2 separate regions of the Homo sapiens genome follow, and region 2 is linked to region 1. The links come from fine-mapping of genetic effects on gene expression. A gene starts in region 1. The other region holds a variant in brackets. All regions are shown on one strand. Distances are between the middles of the regions. Region 1 holds the start of LINC01252 (long intergenic non-protein coding RNA 1252). Region 2 overlaps PRB2 (proline rich protein BstNI subfamily 2).

The links. PIP is the estimated chance that this variant, and not a neighbour inherited with it, causes the effect.
Region 2: its variant is fine-mapped to the expression of LINC01252 in sun-exposed skin (GTEx, PIP 0.98).

What each region holds. Positions count from the first base shown.
Region 1 is chr12:11,542,333-11,553,628 of GRCh38, forward strand. LINC01252 (long intergenic non-protein coding RNA 1252) reads left to right here and starts at 5,698. Exons shown (of 8, transcript NR_033890.1): 1 at 5,698-6,028; 2 at 7,258-7,389; 3 at 10,248-10,361; 4 at 11,234-11,296. The region is part of intron 2 of LOC124902877 (a long non-coding RNA gene); the gene reads right to left. It also overlaps the pseudogene RNU7-60P. RefSeq lists an enhancer at 2,174-2,233.
Region 2 is chr12:11,382,987-11,394,282 of GRCh38, forward strand. It overlaps PRB2 (proline rich protein BstNI subfamily 2), which reads right to left. Exons shown (of 4, transcript NM_006248.4): 3 at 9,808-10,991; 4 at 8,554-8,662. The coding sequence ends at 9,841. Among named protein-coding and RNA genes, the nearest start is that of PRB2, 6.9 kb to the right of the region's middle. The variant G/C (reference allele first, on the strand shown) is at 6,511.

The sequences.
Region 1 (11,296 bases):
CTGAGGTTGGAGTGTAGTGGCACAATCTCAGCTCACTGTGGCCTCAACCTCCCAGGATCATGTGATCCTCCCACCTTAGCCTCCTGAGTAGCTGGGATTGCAGGTGTGCACTACCATGCCCAGCTAATTTGTGTATTTTTTGTAGAGATGGGGTCTCACTATGTTGTTGAGGCTGGTCTTGAACTCCTGGGCTCGAGCAATCTGCCTGTCTCAGCTTCCTAAAGTACCCAGATTACAGGCATTAACCACCACACTCAGAAACTTCTATTTTTAAAAGCCATGGTCTCTTTAGGTGTTCTCTATCACTCTAAGTCAAAACTATTCCTTAAACATACAGGGCTCGAAGTGTTGATCTCCTGGAGAGCCTGGTCACCTCCAAGCCATAGGGCTTACAGTAGGCTGTCTTCAAACAAGCAAGGAAGTAATAGGCTTTCTACCGCAACTCAGATCTAGGTTTCAGGACTCATTCTAGGGACAGCTGCAACTGCCAAGTAGACTATGAGGAAACTTTCTCAGTGTTCTAGAAAAAAAAAAATGGAGGAGAAGGTGGGGAGGGGGAAGGAGAAAGAGAGTTAAAACAAAACAAAGAGAAAGACGGAGAAAATTAATGATTATATCAGGCCTCTCCCAACTCCCTCCTCTTTCCCTGGAGCACAGGACTAAATGTTAAGAAGAGAAGGATGAGATTTCTACCATAACTGAGGAAAACTACAAAACATGAGAGTCTGAAGAGACAATAAGGAAGATAGAGGCCAATCCTGTAATTTTTCAGATGAAGAAAGTAAGGCCCAGGGAGAAGAAATTACTGTATTCAGATCACACAGTTATAAGGATTCGAGCCAATACTGGATCTTAACCCAGTGTTTACTATTCTGTGCAGTGTTCCATTATTCGTGGATTGCTAACAATGAAAGAAAGCATAGAAATGATATAGTTCAACCTCCTTATTTTAAAATAAGAAAAGATATATTGAGAGAGGTCAAATAATTTGCTCAAAGTCACAGTTGGCTTTTTGCTACCAATCCAAGCTTCTTTTCCCTAGTCTTTGCATATACACACAACAATGTTTTGAATAATTTCAAAATTATTTCAAAAATTAACCCAGAGTAAATGTACTTATTCAGGAAAGTAGTGGAAATAGGAAATATAGCAAACATAAAAACACCTCACCCCTATGACTCAATTTATACTGGTCCATGAACAGTTAACAGTTTTCAACACTTAACACTTCTCTTCCCGTGCTAGCTGGCAGCCAGAGTTATTCTGCAAAACTGTGTTTCCAAGTCCTCAAGAGGAATACATGTGTAAGTGTGCTTTAAATTTGCAAATGTTTTATCTTTGAGATCCTTAAACAGTAACACTATTAATCTTCATCTTCAAGCTGCTAAGTTTGTTATGATATGTTTATACGTGTGTGTGTGTGTGTGTGTGTGTGTGTCTACGCAGAACTTTTTTTGGCTGGTCATGTGACTCCTAGAACTGTATCCTTCCATCCACTATGCATTTCCCTATGTAAATAATATTAGCTTTCACTGGTGATGGCAACAAGACAGAAGGAATGAGGTCAAGGAGGAAATAAATTTGGATAGAAAGAAGCCGTCAAAACCCTGTGAATAAAATTCACAAGCGAGTTTCGGTGACTCATAAGAGCACAGAGAGGAGACACAGGGATTATTCAGGAGCAGGTTCCTGTAGGGTAGCAGGAGCTGCACAGCAGGAGTGTGGAGGGGCACAGGTCAGCACCAGGATGCACCAAGGGCACCTGGGAAGTGCTGAGGGCCAGGCCACACTTAACTCGGGTCTGTGCCCTGCAGTGGGAAGAAGCCTCAGAGTATTTTCATCCTGCGAATCTCCTCTGTGCAAGAAAAGACCAGTTGATGTCCTTGAAAACTTTCCTATTTGACCAGTTCATTCTTATTTCAAAATTTTATATTATTATATTTTTTAGAGACAGGGTCTCGCTATGTTGCCCAGGCTGGACTCGAACTCCTGAGCTCAGTGAGACTCCCACCTCAGCCTCCTGAGTTGCTACCATGCCCAGCTTGCCCAGTTCATTTTTAATGAGGCCAAACACATTGGTCATGCAGCTCACAAACAAAAGGGAATGTCTGTAGTTCTGGTCAGTCACAAACTCATTGTACTTTACAGAGAAAACTCCATGCAGAATGTTGAAATATCATCCTCTAAAGGTTGACTCTAAGTATACAGAAGCAGTGTAGGGGCACAGACAGCTCAGTTGAGCACTCAGCACATCAAACAAGAAAGCATGTGGTGGTTTCCCTCTACCCAGAGCAGGGTCTGATACGGAGGAGCAAGCCTGGACTTTGTCCTTGGGCAAATTGCCCCATTAGGGGAGGAAGGAGCCCACTCTCCAGACTTTCTGGTTTGAAGCAGTACCTGGGTCTGAGCAGAGTGAGGAACACTTCCTGCTACAGCCAAACTAGACTAGCCTGGGCCCTGAGATCCATGACCTCACATGTGCCTTTTTCTCCAGGCACACTGGAAAGCTTAGTCCCCCCGCCCCCGTGACTGTCTGTTCCCGAGATAGTCCCTTTGCATGGAGAATCCGTGCCCATCCCACCCACCCCCACACCATAAAAAGTCAATGTTAGAAGGTTTGAATGGATTTAGTGATCATGCACTCCAACCCTGCCTATCTGTTCATCAAAGTCCACTTCAAATACCACTTTATAAAGACATTGTGGTTCTTCTGTCTCCCAATTCATTATTACTTTGGTGCTCTGTTATGGTATACATCACATTCAGTCTTGTATTAGAGTTGTTTGTGTACATATTTTCTGCCCTCACTCCAAGGCCAGCTTAAAACTTATAAATCTTAAAATATTTTGGCCTCCTAAAAATTAAACAGTATCATTCATAGTTTCCACTATTAAATATTTTATGCTTTTGGAATAAAATATGTCATTCTTCACCCCCTCTCCCAAAAACCCCAAAACTTTGTTCCTCTGCTTTTCTAGTTTCCCGTGTGCTGCTTAGTGGGTTTTCCAGCAGCCCTGGTCCCAAGCACATGAGGGACTGTTAGCATTTTCAAGACAAAAGTATCCTTAACTCCTCTTCATGAGCCTGCGAAGATTAAACACGGAGCTCAGAACACAGTATGAACACAATAGATGTATGATGAAATGAATAGGGCTAGCATTAACTAATGAGAGCTCCTCAATGATGAGCAAGAAGAAGGTGAAATCATGCCATCCAAGGCTTCCCAGTGCCCCTGGAGACCACACAGCCCCTTTACACAGGAAATGACGTGATTCCTGATAAGCAAGCAGTACACACTGCACAGCTTCCTTCCCTTCCTCCCCCTGCCACTCAGCACCTTTGGCAAATAGCGGCCTGCCTTCAGCCTTCATTAGGAAAGCCTTCATTAGGCCTGCCTTCTTCTCTTCATTCATGAGAGAGTGGCATTAACAGTGCACAAACTAATGCTTCTTCAAATTTTTCTGGGGTCTGCTGCTGCTACTGCTAAAATCCGCTTGCCTTCGGACACAGTTTCTCAAATGGCTTAAAAGCTTCTCTGCTTTTGATCCCTGCAGCATCACTTTCTACTCCCTCAATCAGAAACCAGAAGCTACCCACCCCCATTTCCTGTGTTCATGATAGTAGAAAGCAACAGAGAACAGTTGGCCCCTGAGCTGCCAGGTTGTGGGCTGGGTAGGGAGGATCCATTGCAGGAGCATTGGAAAGCCTTGAGCACTCTGCCCTGCCTGTCCACACAGCAGCACCTTCACAGCCTTCTAGTAGTTCTGATCAGATTTCTGCCTCTTAAAGCGGCCCCACAGACTAAAAGCCATCATCTGGAATTTGGAGTAAAAGGGCCCACAGGAAATGAAGCACTCTAAGAAAATTCAGCTGGGCAGGTATTTTAAGGTCACTGACTGACTCCAAAGTGAAGGTAGAACCCATATTGACCGCAATTCATCACACTTCTGTAACTTCAGAACTCACTGCTGACTGGTGGAGAAGGTTGCAATTGCATTCAGTCCGAATCTCTGAACATATTATTTAGAAATATTAGCTTATCCAGCTGCCTACGGAGCTTCCCATCTGGGCTTTCAGTTGCTACATTCTCTAAAGCCGTATCTGACCCACACCTTACTAACACTATGTGCTTCTACAGCATTCACCCAGTGTTACAGCTCTTTTAGAATCTGTCTAGCAGGTTTTCCAGTCTTCACTGGAAAGCCCTTGCCCCCAAATATAAAAAAATAATAAGGCATTCACCCCTGAACTTTAGCAGGGCTTCCAATCGCCTTTAAGCACTCATTTAAAAGAAAAGTCTTTTATTCCCTTATAATAGTATTAAATCATTAGCAAATGATTCTCAAAACTATTTTTTGAGTGCTCTCTTCTGTGTGAGAATGTAGGAAATGATGACCAAGTATACGAAGTTGGACATGCCTAGTCCCAGGTGGCCTTTTCCTATTGGCACAGCTGCTGGCATTCACCCGTGCAAGCTTCTAGCTTGCTTGTCTATGTCTGCAGCTTGATTTTACAGGCTGCTCATTGTAAGAAAAGAAAACGATTTGAGGGCTGCTTTTCATTAAAAGGAAAACCTTACTGAGGACTTCCTTACCCTCACTATCTGCCTAAATAATTTCTTCTTAACTCCTATATCACTTATAAGAGGAGAAAGCAGACACACAGGGGGAACTCAGTGTGACAGCACAGGCGGAGCCTGGAGGGATGCCCAGGAATGCCAAAGAGACGCACAGACTGGTTTCTCTCTCACAGCCCCCAGAAAAACCTAACCCTGCCAGTGAGAGGTGACAGCGTGCTGGCAGTCCTCACAGCCCTGCTCGCTCTCGGCGCCTCCTCTGCCTGGGCTCCCACTTTGGCGGCACTTGAGGAGCCCTTTAGCCCACCGCTGCACTGTGGGAGCCCCTTGCTGGGCTGGCCAAGGCCGGAGCCGGCTCCCTCAGCTTGCAGGGAGGTGTGGAGGGAGAGGCGCGGGCGGGAACAGGGGCTGCGCGCGGTGCTTCCGGGCCAGCGCGAGTTCCGGGTGGGCGTGGGCTCGGCGGACCCAGCACTCGGAGCGGCAGGCCGGCCCCACCAGCCCGAGCAGTGAAGGGCTTATCACCTGGGCCAGCAGCTGCTGTGCTCAATTTCTCGCCAGGCTTTAGCTGCCTTCCCGCGGGGCAGGGCTCGGGACCTGCAGCCCGCCATGCCTGAGCCTCCCCCACCTCCGTGGGCTCCTGTGCAGCCGGAGTCTCCCCGACAAGCGCCACCCCCTGCTCCGCGGAGCCCAGTCCCATCGACCACCCAAGGGCTGAGGAGTGCAGGCACACGGCACCGCACTGGCAGGCAGCTCCACCTGCAGCCCCGGTGGGGGATCCACTGGGTGAAGCCAGCTGGGCTCCTGAGTCTGGTGGGGACGTGGAGAACCTTTATGTGTAGCTCAGGGATTGTAAATACACCAATGGGCACTCTGTATCTAGCTCAAGGTTTGTAAACACACCAATCAGCACCCTGTGTCTAGCTCAGGGTTTGTGAATGCACCAATGGACACTCTGTATCTTGCTACTCTGGTGGGGACTTGGAGAACCTTTGTGTGGACACTCGGTATCTAGCTAGTTTGGTGGGGACGTGGAGAACCTTTGTGTCTAGCTCAGGGATTGTAAACGCACCAATCAGCGCCCTGTCAAAACAGACCATTGGCTCTACCAATCAGCAGGATGTGGGTTGGGCCAGATAAGAGAATATAAGCAGGCTGCCCGAGCCAGCAGTGGCAACGCGCTCGGGTCCCCTTCCACACTGTGGAGGCTTTGTCCTTTCGCTCTTTGCAATAACTCTTGCTACTGCTCACTCTTTGGGTTCACACTGCCTTTATGAGCTGTAACACTCACCGCGAAGGTCTGCAGCTTCACTCCTGAAGCCAGCGAGACCACGAACCCACCAGAAGGAAGAAACTCCAAACACATCTGAACATCAGAAGGAACAAACTCCGGACACGCCGCCTTTAAGAACTGTAACACTCACGCGAGGGTCCGCGGCTTCATTCTTGAAGTCGGTGAGACCAAGAACCCACCGATTCCGGACACACCAGCACCCGGATCTCAGACCTCTGGCCTCCGGAACTGTGAGAGAGTAACTTTCTGCTGTTTTAAGATACCCAGCTTGTGGTCATTTATTACAGCAGCCCTAGCAAACGAACCCAGTGTGGTTTGCAACTTCAGTTATAGCATCTACCATCAGCCCAATTCAAAAGACCATTTATTTAATCAGCAACGTTTCCCCCGTCACTCCTTATGGGGCAGTATCCACTGTAGGCTACTGATTCTACTTAGTGCTTTAAGTCAGCGTTGCCAGAATCATACTGAAACACATACCTGGGGCTTCTAGGGCATCTCCTAGTCAGCCTTGTCAAAATCAACAGTTTTGAAAATACGCTCTATGGCAGTCCTGAATTCCACAGGGGTGGAATTCAGAGCCGCTCTCCTCTTGTTTGTCGTATTTTATAAAATGGATATTTAATTCTGTTTCACTATTTGCTTTCATTACTAAAATTTCCCAAAATACATGAAAATAGAGGGTACTCGAAAAACCCAACTTTAAATAAAATAACCGTGAGTATTCTGCCATACTTGTTTCTGTGTTAATATAAGAATTTATTTGAAGAGTTCTGCTATAATGTTTTTAAATACTGGTTTCAATAACTCTCTTCCAATACAGATTACACTTTGTTAGCTCCAATAATTGCTGCATGGTGAATTTAGTCTATTGAAAAGGAAGTGTCAGGTCTGAGTGCCAATTATTGTACTTGACCCAAGGTAACTCTCTTTCAAGGTACTGCGTTGGGTTCCCACTGAATTATTTTACCACATTCGAAATCCTTCATCAGAAATTCAATGTCTTTTATTATGATACATGAAATGATCTAATAAATCTCACTGCACACTGTTACTTTGATTTCTCCAATGAACCACACCTCTCAGAATGCACGCCCTTGTATAGTCCCCTCTCATGGTGACAGCAGGCTTAGCCTTGTGACTAGCTTTGACAATGGGGATATTAGCAAGCATGATGCAAGTGGATTCTGATAAGCTTGATGCTGTATTTATTTGCTTTGGCTGCCATAATAAATGATCACAAACTGGGTATCTTAAAACAGCTCCTTTTTCAGATGTTTCTCCACATTCTTCCAAGGCAAAAAGAAAAGAAAAAGAAATACACACAGACACATACATATATGTTTCAGTTCAATAAGTTTTTGTTGTGTTTTGTTTTGTTTTGTTTCAGACAGAGTCTTGCTCTGTCGCCCAGGCTGGAGTGATGAGGCGCGATCATCACTCCACCTGGGCTCACTGCACCTCCGCCTCCCGGGTTCAAGCGATTCTCCTGCTTCAGCCTCCTGAGCAGCTGGGATTACAGGTGAGTGCCACCATGCCCAGCTAATTTTTGTATTTTTCTTAGTAGAGACAGGGTTTCACCATTGTTCGTCAGGCTGGTCTCGAACTCCTGACCTCATGATCCACCCACCTCGGCCTCCCAAAGTGCTGGGATTACAGGCGTGAGCCACCGCGCCCAGCCTCAATAAGTATTTATTAAGTGTATAACACATGGCAGAAACTGTGCTAGATACTGAAACTATAATGGCAAAAATCAATTCCTGTCCTCTGAATTGGTTACCTAGTAGAGAAGACAGACATGTAAACAAATATAGTGGAGAGTGACATAGGCAATAATAAAACTATGTATAAGAAATCCAATTAGTATGGATAATTAACAACTAATGGTTGGAAAGAAGTGTCAAAAAAAGCTTCTTAGATACAGTGACACCTGAGCAGGATTTCTAAGGGTGCACTGGGGAAAGAGGTTCATAAATCAAGGGAGCATCATACTGAAATGGTAGTGATGGAACATGGTATATGCAGACAACTACAAAAATTCACTTCTACTGATAGTCCAAGGGAGGAAGGCATGAATATGAGAATGGAGGTATGGACAGAGGCCAGGTCAGGGTAAGTTAGAGAGCTTACTTAACCTTGTAGAAAATGACGAGCCATTGGAGACTTTAAAGAGAAATAACATAGTCATATTCTTGTTGTGAAAGATCATCTGGGCTGCTATGTGCAGGACAGATTACCAGGAACAAAACCAGAAGCACCTGTTCAAGCCTGAATTCTAGTCACAGAAGTAAAGCTGAAGAGGAGAAAATGGATGTGAGCAATATCCAAAAGGGAAAATAATAATATACACATAAGGAATAGGGAAGAGAAGAGCAAAAATAATTTCCTATTTCGCCTTCCCTTCTTTTGGAGTTGGAACACTCAAATGGTGTGATGGGTGGCACTGGGGCTAAGGGGACAAGGCTGGCCCAGCTGGGAGATTGCTTACATGCAGGAGGATCAAGTGAATGAGTCAACGTATCAAGGAGACTGGGAATGCAATTTCTCACTGTTGAAGAAAGGAGTTACAAATATGCAAAGGGGAAAATGTGATACTGGATTGGAATTGAAGGCATTAGTCCGAAGTTATGGATTTTAAAGATAGGAATGTGACAGATGATAGATAGGTAGGGATAGACAGGTAAATTGAGAAGTAGAAATGTATGAATGTGTTATATTTCCTAGTCCAGGAGCAATGACACCCCAGTTGCAATGAGCATCCTAGCATTTAGATCTCAGTTTCTAAATACCTTTTTCCACTAAAAGGAACCAGGGCTGGGGCAGGGAAAGAACAAGATGACCCTGGAACTCTATTGTACTGAAAGTAAGGAAGCCCTCAGATAATTATGAGGACATGTCTAAAGGACACAGGAGTGGCTCACGCCTGTAATCCCAGCACTTTGGGAGGCCAAGGCGGGTGGATCACAAGGTCAGGAGATCCAGACCATCCTGGGTAACACGGTGAAGTCCCATCTCTACTGACAATACAAAAAAATTAGCCAGGTGTGGTGGCGGGCGCCTGTAGTCCCAGCTACTCGGGAGGCTGAGACAGGACAATAGCGTGAACCCAGGAGGTGGAGCTTGCAGTGAGCCGAGATCACACCATTGTGCTCCAGCCTGGGCAATAGAGTGAGACTTCCTCTCAAAATAAATAAATAAATAAATAAACACAGGAGCCAACTTCATGGGGCTCCAGTTGTCCACATCTAGGTCATTTTGTGGATCAAAATAAAAAATGATAGTAACTGATTATAATTCATTGAAAAATCAAATCTCATGAATCCATACTTATATAATACATGAATGAATAAATATGAGAGAGAAGAGAGAGCTCTAACTTATAGTAAATGCCAACTAATCAATGTAAATATAATTATGGAATTAGAAAATTGTTATTATTTTGAGACAGGGTCTTGCTCTGTCACCCAGGTTGGAGTGCAGTGGTGCAGTCACAGTTCACTGCAGCCTCAACCTGCTGGGCTCAAGCAATTCTCCCACCTCAGCCTCCCAAGTAGCTGGGACTTCAGGCGTGTGCCACCACACGGCTATTTTTGTATTTTTTGTAGAAATGAGGTTTCATCATGTTGCCCAGGCTGGTCTCAACTCCTGGGCTCAAACAATCCACCTCAGCCTCCCAAAGTGCTGGGATAATAGGCATGAGCCACCACACCCAGCCAGAAAATTATTATTTTGCAACCATTATAGTTATAACTAATTTAGATAGAATCATCATTGGATGGAAAAGCTAGTAGGTGAAAATTTGATGAGGAAATGGATACAATCTCAAAGTATCTCCCCCAAAATATTTAGTGCTTATTAGTAGTTTAGAAATACAAATTACTTACTAGTTAGCTCTATAGCATAGAAACCTAGCCAATATCATCTTAATCGAGTGCTAACATATAATGTTGTCTATAAACAGGATAAATCTATATTAAGTTACTCTAACAAACTGAGAAAACACAGCATCATTTCTGTGAACGTCCTGCCAAAAACGCACCACCCAAATCTGACAATAAGGTAACATCAGACAAACCCAAACTGAGGGACATTCTACGAAGTAATTAGCCTGTTCTCTTTAAAAACACCCAGGTTATGAAAAACAAGGAAAGAATGAGAAAATGTTCCTGATTAAGGGAGACTAACAGAGATATAATGACTAAACACAACACATGATCCTGGGTTGGATTCTGGAATTATAAAGAACGTTATTGTAAAATTGGTGAAATCTGAATGGAGTCTACGGATTGTGGCTTTATTACATCAATGTTAAATTCCTGATCTTTTTCATTTCTTTTTCCTTTCTCTTTTTTTTTTTTTTTTTTTTTTTTTTTGAAACAGAGTCCCTGTCATCCAGACTGGAGTGCAGTGGTACAATCCCGGCTCACTGCAACCTCCACCTCCTGGGTTCAAGCGATTCTCCTGTCTCAGCCTCTCAAGTACCTGGAATTACAGGCATGTGCCACCGCACCCCATGTAATGTCCCGATCTTGATGGATGCACTCTGGTTATAGAAATGTCCTCATTTTAAGGAAATACATGCCAAAGTAGTAAAGGCTCATGGGGCATCATATTTGCAACTGTTCTCACCTGGTTCAGAAAAATTTAAGAGCAATAATACGTATAAATGTGTAGATAGAATAAGAAGACAAACATGGTAAAATGTTAACAACTGGGGAATCCGGATGAAAGGTGTACGGAAGCTCTTGTGCTACTACACCTGCAACTTTTCCATAAGTTTGAAATTGTTTCAAAATGAAAAAAATGTACAAGTATCCTAGAAAATGCAAACTCATCCAAAGTGACGGAAAGCAGGTCACTGGTTGTCTGAGTGGGATGGGCCAGAGGAGAGAGGAGTCAGGATTACGAAGGGGGCACAACAAGGAAACTTGGTGGGGAGGATATGAATATCCTTTTTTTTTTTTTGCTTTTTTAGAGACAGGGTCATGCTCTGTCACCCAGCTCATAGCTCACTGCATCCTCAAACTCCAGGGCCCACGGGATCTTCCTGCCAAGCAACTGGGACTACAGGCTCAGCCCACCATGCCTGGCTGTTTTTTTTCTTTTGGTGGAGATGAGGTCTCACTATGTTGCCTGGGGCTGGTCTTGAACTCCTGGTCTCAAGGAAATCCTCCCACTTATGACTCCCAAAGCACTGGGATTACAGGCGTGAGCCACCTTGCCCAGCCATGTTCATTATCTTGATTGTGTCAGTTGCCTCTTTGGTGTAAAATAGGTCGAAATTTACTATGTTGTACACTTTAAAAATCTATTAATAGGTTAAATAACATGAAATAATTGTTTTTTAATTCCTAATATTTGCCTAGGGAATACAACCAACCTCTTCATCACATGAAGACATTTTTTTCATGCTTTTCCATGTTCCTGAA
Region 2 (11,296 bases), 160 kb before region 1:
TGAGTTCATGTCCTTTTTAGGGACATGGATGAAGCTGGAAACCATCATTCTCAGCAAACTGTCGCAAGGACAAAAAACCAAACACCTCATGTTCTCACTCATAGGTGGGAATTGAACAATGAGAACACATGGACACAGGAAGGGGAACATCACACACTGGGGCCTGTTGTGGGGTGGGGGGAGTGAGAGAGATAGCATTTGGAGATATACCTAATGTTAAATGACGAGTTAATGGGTGCAGCACACCAACATGGCACATGTATACATATGTAACAAACCTGCACGTTGTTCACATGTACCCTAAAACTTAAAGTATAATAAAAAAAAAAAAAGAAAAAAAGAAAAAAAGAAGTCCAAAGATACTGCATCAATACCGTAAGTTGGATGCCCAGGGATTTTCTCTTTTTTTTTTCTTTCTTCTTTTTTTTCTTTTCTTTTTTGCTTCCATAGATTGAGGAACAGGTGGTGTTTGGTTACATGAATACATTCTTTAGTGGTGATTTGTGAGATTTTGGTGCACCCACCACCCGGGGGTTTACACTGCACCCAATTTGTAGCCTTTTATTCATCACCCCCTTCTCAGCATTTCCTCTAAGTTCCCAAAGTCCATTGTGTCATTCTTATGCCTTTGCATCCTCATAGATTAGCTCCCATTTATGACTGAGAACATACGATGTTTGGTTTTCCATTCCTAAGTTACATCACTTAGAATGATAAGATCAACTTCTGAGACACTTTGGAAACAGCCAAAACTTGAGCAGATAAATGCCCAGAAAAGCTTCAGCAGAGGGTCCTTGTCCATCACAACAATGCTCCTGCTCATTCCTCTCTTGAAACAAGGGCAATTTTACCAGACTTTTGATGGAAAATCCCTAGGCATCCAATCTCATCCATTTTTCTGCTAAAGATTTGACTAAATCTCTCCAAACTCCAAACTGTCTCATAAGTGGTTTTTACCATTCTTTGGCCCTCCAGAAAGTTAACAACCAGAAAACCTTTAGCATCCAAAAACACTGTTGGCATGATATTTGCTTTTGTTGCATTTACTTAGACTAGACCACTTCCACCTCTTGGTAGCCATTGCTTTCATTGTGTTTGTCCCTTTGAATGCCACTGGTAAAGCCATGTTTTATTTCCTGTTACAACTCTTCAAAGAAATGCTTTAGGATTTTTTTTTCTTTTCTTTTCCTTCCTACTTGTTTAATTTGTCACAGAACGTTCTCTTCTTGTCTGTAGCTGACAGGTACAGCAGTTTTGGCCCTCATCAAGTGGCTAGTTTGTTCGTATTTAGTTTTTTAGACAGAAAAAATTATGTAATCTGAATCAATTGTTCTTCTTGTGCTAGCTCTTTTTTCTGCTGTTGATTGTCAGACCTCTTCAATTAGGCCACAAGAAGATACAATTTTTGTCCGTAAGTTAATGTGAAGGGACTACTGCTGCAAGGTTCACCTTCACCATCATTTCAACACTTCTTTTTTTTTAATGTCAAGATCTTTATCTTTTTTATTATTATACTTTAATAATAATAATGGAGAAATAGGAACACTTTTACACGTTGGTGAGACTGTAAACTGGTTCAACCACTGTGGAAGACAGTGTGGTGATTCTTCAAGGATCTAGAACTAGAAATACCATTTGACCCAGCAATCCCATTACTGGGTATATACCCAAAGGATTATAAATCATGCTGCTATAAAGACACATGCACACGTATGTTTATTGCGGCACTATTCACGATAGCAAAGACTTGGAACCAACCCAAATGTCCATCAATGATAGACTGGATTAAGAAAACGTGGCACACACACACCATGGAATACTATGCAGCCATAAAAAATGATGAGTTCATGTCCTTTGTAGGGACATGGATGAAGCTGGAAACCATCATTCTCAGCAAAGTATCACGGGGACAAAAAACCAAACACTGCATGTTCTCACTCATAGGTGGGAATTGAACAATGAGAAAACTTGGACACAGGAAGGGGAACATCACACACTGGGGCCTGCCATGGGTTGGGGGGAGGGGGGAGGGATAACATTAGGAGATATACCCAATGGAAATGATGAGTTAATAGGTGCAGCACACCAACATGGCACATGTATACATATGTAACAAACCCTGTGCACATATACCCTAGAACTTAAAGTATAATAAAAAAAGAAAAGAAAATTAGACCATATCGCATTTGTACATCACATCCATCACAGTTTTTTATTACACTGGTAATCAGATTTGGATTTCATATGCCAGCTCCTTCATACCTATATGACTTTCTCTTTATTGAAAAGTGGGTGATTCTTTGAATAGGACAGAAAGCAGAATCTTCCTCAACTTCATCTTGAACTAGCTTGACTGCAACACAAGAGGGTTGTCTACCAGGAGAGATGAACATTAACAGAGTGGATGGACTTGTGATGTGATCGAGTAAATTGCATGAAGTCCCTATGGTCTGGGAGGGGTTCATGTGTATCAGAGGAATCCTGGTTACACAATTATGATACTGGTTCATATATTTTTATATTATGTTTTGTCTTAAAAACACATATTTCACAATTATTTTGCGGTATTCATATTCTATGAACATATTGTAGCCATGGCTGATTATAGTAAAAATATTTCTTAAGCATTTACTGTATGCCATTTAATCTTCAGAACCAGCTTATCAGGTAAGAATCCTGCATACTACCATCTCAATTTTATAGGTGAGCTGAGTGGGCACAAGCCAAAGTTGCTAAAATAGTAATAAGTGGTAGAGATGGCAGTCAGTCATCAGAGCCTATGTTCTTGCTTACTGTACTCCACCACTTTCTTGCTATTTACTTCTACATTTATTCACTTCCAAGAACGTCAGAAGAAACCAGGTCCAGAAAATAAACTCAGATACAAGTGATAGATAATGGGTAAGGTAAAACATGCCCTGAAAAAGCAGTCATAGAGAAGATATTGAGTATCAGAAACTACATGGAAAAATAGAAGTCAGAAGACAGCCCAACCGTGTTTTTTTGCTGTTGTTTCTTTTGGTTTTGCTTTTAGATGTATGTTTACTAATTAGACCTCAGATGGGGTTGTGTGTTAGTCCATTTCTACTGTAACAACAAGACTGTAGACTGGGTCATGATTAAAGAATAGAAATTTGTTTCCCAATGTTCCGTAGGCTAGGAAGTCTAAGATTAAGGCATCAACAGATTCAGTGTTTGGTGAGGGCTTCTGTTTGCTTCCAAGATGGTTCCTTGTTGCTGTGGTGGAATAAAGGTTTAAAAACTCTAGGTAAAAATAGCAATCAAACTAGAATCCTATATCCATTCAGGTAATCACTTAAGTGTGAAGGTCACATAACACATCTGGCAACACGAAAAACCTTGAAATAGTTTACTTCTCATATGCTGAAGCTATGCTAGCATATGTTTCACAGAAGAAGAAAACCAAGAAACAGGAAGACAGTAACTCAGGATATGCATTATCCTACTTAAAAGGGAGAAATGGGAATTTCCAGGACAAAAGCCAATTATCTGACATTTGAGAGTGAGGAAAATTGTGCTAGGTGGGATTTTGCAGGTCCGTTGGAAGTTGAAGGAAGACTTAGATGTTTTTAAAACAAAGCAAATGATTGAGAAAACAGGTAATTACTAAATTTGTTGTTGGGCATGTAAGTTTTGCAAGGACAGAAAGATAAATGTAATTAACATGTAAATTCAGGCACAGAGTAGTGTTGACATTGGTGACAGTAGAGAACAATCATGAACACAACACAAAGAAAGCCTCCTCATTCTAAAAAAAAGGAAAAAAAATCACTAGTGAAGGGACCTCAGTAGTTGGAGCTGTCATCTGACTTTCTAGCAAGGCTAAGTAGGAGGCAGAAGAACCATGCCTGTCACTCACCACTCTGGTCTCCATATAGAAATCAACTCTAGAACAGTGAGCTTGTTATAGAGGTCAGGTGCAGACTGAAGAATTGGAGGTGGGAGACTTTTCCTTCTTCTCTGTAGGTGTCTACTCCTCTGTTGCCCCCAAGGGGAGAGATGTTTAGAGATTCACTCCATAGAGCTGCTTCACATGGCAGCTGGGTGTTCCCAGTGCAAGTGCTGTCTGAGAGAAGGAGACAGAGGAAGAGAAAGAGACAGAGAGAAGGGGCGAATTGAAAAATAAAAGATGAAGCCACAGTTTCAATTTTAACTTAATCTCAGTGGTAACATACCACCATTTCTGCCATATTTTGCTGGTCACAGAAACCAATCCTGATATAATGTGGTGGGGACTACATAAGAGTGCTAATATTAGATAGTAGGAATATTGCATATGACTATCTCAAAGTGACAATGATTTGATAAATCATTAAAGAAAGTTTAAGAGAATAAGGGGTTCTGTGTATTCAAAGAAGACTTTAATGTGGGAAGATGTGAGCATACTTGAATAAAATGCAAACACATGCTTGATAAAGTTAGGAACAAACTTAGTATGTTGAAAGAATGTTAACAAGGCCAACTGTAGTGTCCAAAGAAATCAACAGATTCAATCTTTATCAAAATATCAATGTCATTTTTCACAGAATTGGTAAAAAATAATCCAACATTACTTACAGAAGGAAAACATAAGAGCCAAAAGACCCAAAGCAATCCTAGGCAAAATAAACAAATTTGGAAGTGTCGCATTGCCTGAATTCAAATTATACGACAAGACTGCAGTAATGAAAACAGGATATGACTGGTCTAAAAATAGGCACATAGATCAATGGAACAGAGTAAAAGATCCAGAAATAAAGCAACATATTTGCAGGCAACTGATCTTTGACAAAGCAGACAAGAACGCACACTTGGGAAACATCACTCATTTCAATAAATGATGCTGAGAAAATTGGATTGCCATATGCAGAAGAATGAAACTGGAACACTATCTCTCACATCTCTCATATAGAAAAATAACTCAGGATGGATTAAAGACTTAAATGTAAAATGTGGGCATATATTAATACAAGAAGAAAACTTCTGGACATTGGCTGAGAAAAGAACTTATGACTAAGACGTCAAAGCACAGGCAACAAAAATCAAATTGGACAAATGGCACTTAATTTATCTAAAATATTTTACAAGCAAAATAAATCAACAGTGTCAACAGGCAACATGCAGAGGGAAAATATTTGTAAACTATGCATCATACAGGGAACTAATATGCAGAGTATACAAGGAACTCAAACTACTCAGCAACAACAACAAAAAATCAATTAAAAATAGACAAAGGACATGAATAGATGTGTTTCAAAAGAATACATACAAACAGCCAACAGTAAATGAAAACATGTTCAACATCTCTAATCATTAGAGTAATGTGAATGAAAACCACAATGAGATATCATCTTACCTCAGTCATAATGACTATTATTAAAAGGGTGAAAAATAACAGCTGTTGGCAAGGATAGGGAGAAAGGAGAACTCTTAAACACCCTTGGTGAGAATATACATTAGTACAGCTTCTATGGAAAACAGTATGATTTCTCAAAGAACTAAAACTAGAACTACATTTCCATTGAGCAATCCTACTACTGGGTATCTCCTCAAAGGAAAAGTAGTCAATGTATCAAATATATACATTTATCTGTATGTTTATTGTAGCAACATTCACAGTAACAAAGATATTGAATCTACCAATGTATCTGTCAATGAATGATTGGATTAAAAAATGTAAATATATATACACAATACCATACTACTCAATTACAAAGAGAGAATGAAATCACACATATTGTGACAATATGGATGGAACTGGGAGTCATTTTCTTAAGCCAAAGAGGCTAGATACAGAAAATCAAATATAACACGTTCTCACTGTTAAGTGGTTGCTAAAGAATGTGTCTGCATGGATGTAGAGAGTGAAATGATAGACAAAGAACACTTGGGAGTATGGGAGGCAGAGCGGTTGTATAGTGAGGTATTAATAAATGTAGTGTTTGTTATTTGAGTGAGGAATACCCTAATGCTGTGACTTAAGTACTATGTAATCTATGTAACAAAATCAAAACTTGTATTTGTTCAAAAATATTTTTTTAATTAACAGAAAATCTAAGCATACTGCTTCCATACCCCACCATAAAAAAAAGACAATGACCAGCGTGGCCATAGCAGAATGAATTAGGTGTAGAGCATCCCCCAATTCCACAGAGAGTTAGGACTGAATACATCGGACTTTAGCATAGGTAAAAATTAGCAGGTGGGCGCACTGGCTCACCTCTGTAATCCCAGTGCTGTGGGAGTATGAGGCAGGTGGTTCCCAAGGTCAGGAGTTCAAGACAAGCCTGGCTAACTTAGTGAAACCCCTACTCAACTAAAAATACAAAAATTTAGCTGGGTGTGGTTGCGCACACCTGTAATCCCAGCTATTCAGGAGGCTGAGGCAGTAGAATCACTTGAACCCAGGAGGCAGAGGTTGTAGTGAGCTGAGAACTTGCCACTGCACTCCAGCCTGGGAAACAGAGGAAGACTCTGTCTAAAAAAAAAAAATACTGTCTGGTTCTTATA[G/C]AGTAAAAGTGGTGGCAATCAACTGGAAAACATAGAAAAGTAATATAATTTTTAAATGGCCAAGGTGGGTAATTGACTGTTGGGAAATAAATAGAACTATTTGGTGTAAACTGCAGGTGAGGCTTGCTTAGAGGGGCTGATAGAGATGAAAGTGATGAAACTGGCTGCAGTAGGAAATTATTTTGAAGCTTGAACGTCACAAAGATAACATAGCTGATTTGACTAGATGTAATGTGATGAAAGAGGAAAAGAGAAGAGTCAAGAATAAATCCTAGTTTGCTTAATTAATTAAATGAATTCTTTACCAAGACCAAAAAGAGCTGGAAGAGGAAGAACTTTGTAGCTGTAGGAGGGAAGAGGCAGAGATAGGAGAAACCCTAGGAGAGAGGGGGAGGCTCCTGGAAAGATTGATAGAGTGTTCCCAAAAGAAGGGTAGGATCAGTGGTGTTAAACTGCTGAGGGGTCACAGGAGATGCGGGACTGAGAGTTGATTCCTGAAATGAGTAGAATGGAGGCAGTAGATGATCTTTACAGACTTGAAGTGAAAAGAACAAAAGCATCTATAACGTGTACATATGAAAAATTTGGAGGTGGGGGAATGGGGAAATAATCACATACATACGTTTCAAGAACTTTTCCAATAAAAATGGCAGGCAAATAATATGGTGGGAAAGAAGCACTAAGAGTCTTAGGAAGACTTCTGTGGAAATGGGTGATGTTTCAGCAGGCTTTTGCTGATTGAAGTAATCCCATAGAGCATAGATGTAACAATCACAAGACAAAAGGGTCACATGCAGAAGCAAAATCCTTGATTGGGCAATGTGGTTCAGAATCAAGTGGGAAGGTGAGAGATAGGGGTAGGAATGCTTCACCTATGATAATAGGAGAGAAGCCAGAGACCAGGGCTGCAACTGGGTTGCTCAACTTAGTGGTGGTTATGGTGAGATCATTCTGTTCGGATTTTTCCGACTTCTTAGTGAATTATCTGAGGCTATCGGTGGGCACAGGGGCAGTTTTCTAATATTGAACCTTCCTTGCTTGAGAAGCAGACATGCCAGTCTCTGCAATGTTTTTGGTATATATGTTATCTCATTAGTTTCCATACTCTAAGGTAGTTGTTATGATTATTCTCATTTTAGATGAGGAATTTGAAGCCCTGAGAGTCTAAGTAAACTTTTAAGACTCCAGAGATAGTAAGAAAAACAGTTAGGTCTTAATTAAAACCTGAGAGTGTCCAAAATTTTTGCTTCTTAAAATCATGCTGTCTCTTTAATGAAGTCCATTCAGGTTTCGTTGAAGAAAGATGAGGAAAATAGGAAGGGAGAGAAGTGATCACTGTTAAAATAGGGTCAATGAGATAGAGAGGGTTCTGGGGATAAGAAGCATAGACCCATATTCATTCCCTTGAAACCAAACTCAGCTTCTTAGAAATTATAAGGATCTCTTTCAGCTTCTGTGACTTTTTTGCATTTGTTGTGTTTTCTGTCCTTAAGATCACTGGAATATCAGTAAACAATCAGAAAATAATTTTAAAATTTCAATTTATGCTGTAGAAGTCATGGAAGGGCCAGGCATGGTGGCTCGCACCTATAATCCTGGAAGTTTCAGAGGCCGAGGAAAGCGGATCACCTGAGGTCAGGAGTTGGAGACTAGCCTGGCCAACATGGTGAAACCCCGTTTCTACTAAAAATACAAAAATTAGCTGTGCATGATGGTGGGCATCTATAATCACAGATACTTAGAAGGCTGAGGCAGGAGAATAGCTTGAACCCAGGAGATGCAGAAGGCAGTGAGCCGAGATCGTGCCACTGCACTCCAGCCTGGGTGAAAAAAGCTCCATCTTGGAGGAAAAAAAATAGAAGTCAGGGAAGTAGAGAAACAGTAAAACCTTTTTGCATGGCAGCTGGCTAAATTAGGATTAAGGAGGAGGGAAACTTCCCGGAGCATCAAGGAAAAGGGTTCCTAGATATTCGTGTAATGTCTTCTCTTGGTCCTCAGATCCCACATTCACAAATATTGAGAAACAGACACCACAATCAGAAATTGCAAGCTAATTATTTTATTGGTATACAGAAGTTAGAGCTATGATGACCTTTTTCCAATGTCATGGCATTTGAATCATTTGAATCACTCTCATCTTCTTATTCACTTCCTGAAACAAACAAACAAGGAAGTTCATAGACCAGACTTGACATGGCAGGAAATGTCGAATTCCTCACTGGTCTTACTGCACTACAGTACATGAGAGCCCATCCTCTCTCCCCCTATCCCTTCTACCTCCTGTGTTTCCTCCCTAATTTTTTGTGTGTTCACTCTTTGGATGCCCTTGCACAAAATGTGCTCCAAATTGTTCCTTACGTGATGAAGACAGAAGATCATTCTTAGCTTATTATTACTTGCTGCTGAATTTGTTCACAGATATATTTACACAGATGGGAACTGGAACATATTTTATAACAGTGAGAAGCTGAAACCACCCTCAGTGTCCAGTGACACAGATTGGTTAAAGAAATCACGGTGCAGCCACATAATGGAGTAGTATAAAATGGTAAAAACAAACAGATAACCACTGAAGAGATCTACTTAGCTTCATAGACGTATGTGGAAATTTTCAAAGAAATGTATTTTTTAAATGACTAACATATGTACCTGAATATAAATTATGGTATTAGTTCTGGGGGAAAAATATTCTAGTAGTCTATGTACACATAAATATTTCAAACAGAAGATGCCATAAAGTTAACAGTGGCAGTTTTCTGAAGGAGGGGAGGCAGGTAGGATGAGTCATGCCTTTAAATTTAGATTCATATTTTTCCATTGCATTAGATATTTTTTGTTAGCTTAATCATGTACTTATTGAACAGTAAGAATTTGAAAAATGAGACACCATTTAGCTGCTGAAAGTTCAGGGACCACTTGGCAGGAATACTGGACTCAAGAGGCTGGTGTGAGGCAGGACTGAGCAAACAGTGCTCAGGTGAAAACTTTAAATGGGAGGTCTCTCAGTTTGTGCACAGAAAACAGAGCGCCAGAGAGAACATGGTACTACTTCCTTGTTGCCAACACAACTTAAGACAGATTATTTGGAATTTTGTTTCTCAACATCAGAATTCCTTAAAGAGTTTGTTACAAATATAGGATCTTGTTACCCATTTCCAGAATATGTCAATACAAATCTTTAGAAATGGGATCTGGGACTATACAATGCCAATGGGCTTTTAGCTGATTCATTGGCACAATAAAGCTGGAGAGCTGTAGCAATTAGAGCACTTGGTGAAGAATAAACTGGAATCATACCTGTCATTGAATCCTAGATGACTGGGGAGGCTGTCACTGGGGAGGTCTGGAAGGTCTGCCCCCTTGAGGAGGGCGTGGTGGTCCCTGGGGCTGTCCAGCAGGAGGTGCCTGAGGCTGCTGGGGATTGCCTCCTGCTGGAGGTGGGGGACCTTGAGGATTGTTGCCTTCTTGTTGGGGTGGTCCTTGTGGCTTTCCTGGAGGAGATCGGGCACTTCGGGACTTGCTGCCTCCTTGTGGGGGTGGTCCTTGTGGCTTTCCTGGAGGTGGGGGACCTTGAGGTTTGTTGCCTCCTTGTGGGGGTGGTCCTTGTGGCTTTCCTGGAGGAGGTGGGGGACCTTGAGGCTGGTTGCCTCCTTGTGGGGGTGGTCCTTGTGGCTTTCCTGGAGGAGATCGAGAACTTCGGGACTTGCTGCCTCCTTGTGGGGGTGGTCCTTGTGGCTTTCCTGGAGGTGGGGGACCTTGAGGTTTGTTGCCTCCTTGTGGGGGTGGTCCTTGTGGCTTTCCTGGAGGAGGTGGGGGACCTTGGGGCTGGTTGCCTCCTTGTGGGGGTGGTCCTTGTGGCTTTCCTGGAGGAGATCGGGCACTTTGGGACTTGTTGTCTCCTTGTGGGGGTGGTCCTTGTGGCTTTCCTGGAGGTGGGGGACCTTGAGGTTTGTTGCCTCCTTGTGGGGGTGGTCCTTGTGGCTTTCCTGGAGGAGGTGGGGGACCTTGGGGCTGGTTGCCTCCTTGTGGGGGTGGTCCTTGTGGCTTTCCTGGAGGAGATCGAGAACTTCGGGACTTGTTGTCTCCTTGTGGGGGTGGTCCTTGTGGCTTTCCTGGAGGTGGGGGACCTTGAGGTTTGTTGCCTCCTTGTGGGGGTGGTCCTTGTGGCTTTCCTGGAGGAGGTGGAGGACCTTGAGGCTGGTTGCCTCCTTGTGGGGGTGGTCCTTGTGGCTTTCCTGGAGGAGATCGGGGACTTCGGGACTTGTCTCCTTGTGGGGGTGGTCCTTGTGGCTTTCCTGGAGGTGGGGGACCTTGAGGTTTGTTGCCTCCTTGTGGGGGTGGTCCTTGTGGCTTTCCTGGAGGAGGTGGGGGACCTTGAGGCTGGTTGCCTCCTTGTGGGGGTGGTCCTTGTGGCTTTCCTGGAGGAGATGGGGGACCTTGAGGTTTGTTGCCTCCTTGTGGGGGTGCTCCTTGTGGATTTCCTGGAGAACAAAGAGAGAAGAGAAAGACAGAGTAAAAGCCCATACAAGATTCCCTGAATAGTTGCAGTAAATTTTTATCAGTTTGGGTAACAAGCTGAGTGGGGAAACACACAAAAATGAGACCAAGACATTAATTTCTTTGCATTTCAGTGAAGACATAGAACTCTGGAGTGGAGCGCCAGGGAAGAACAAAGCAGTTGAGGGCCTCTCATTATAAAGAGGAGACAGAATGAGGATGCTGCCCATTTGTCTGTCATCTCCCAGCAGGCACTCCTGGCCAGGGGGATGAGGTAACCCACTCCTGC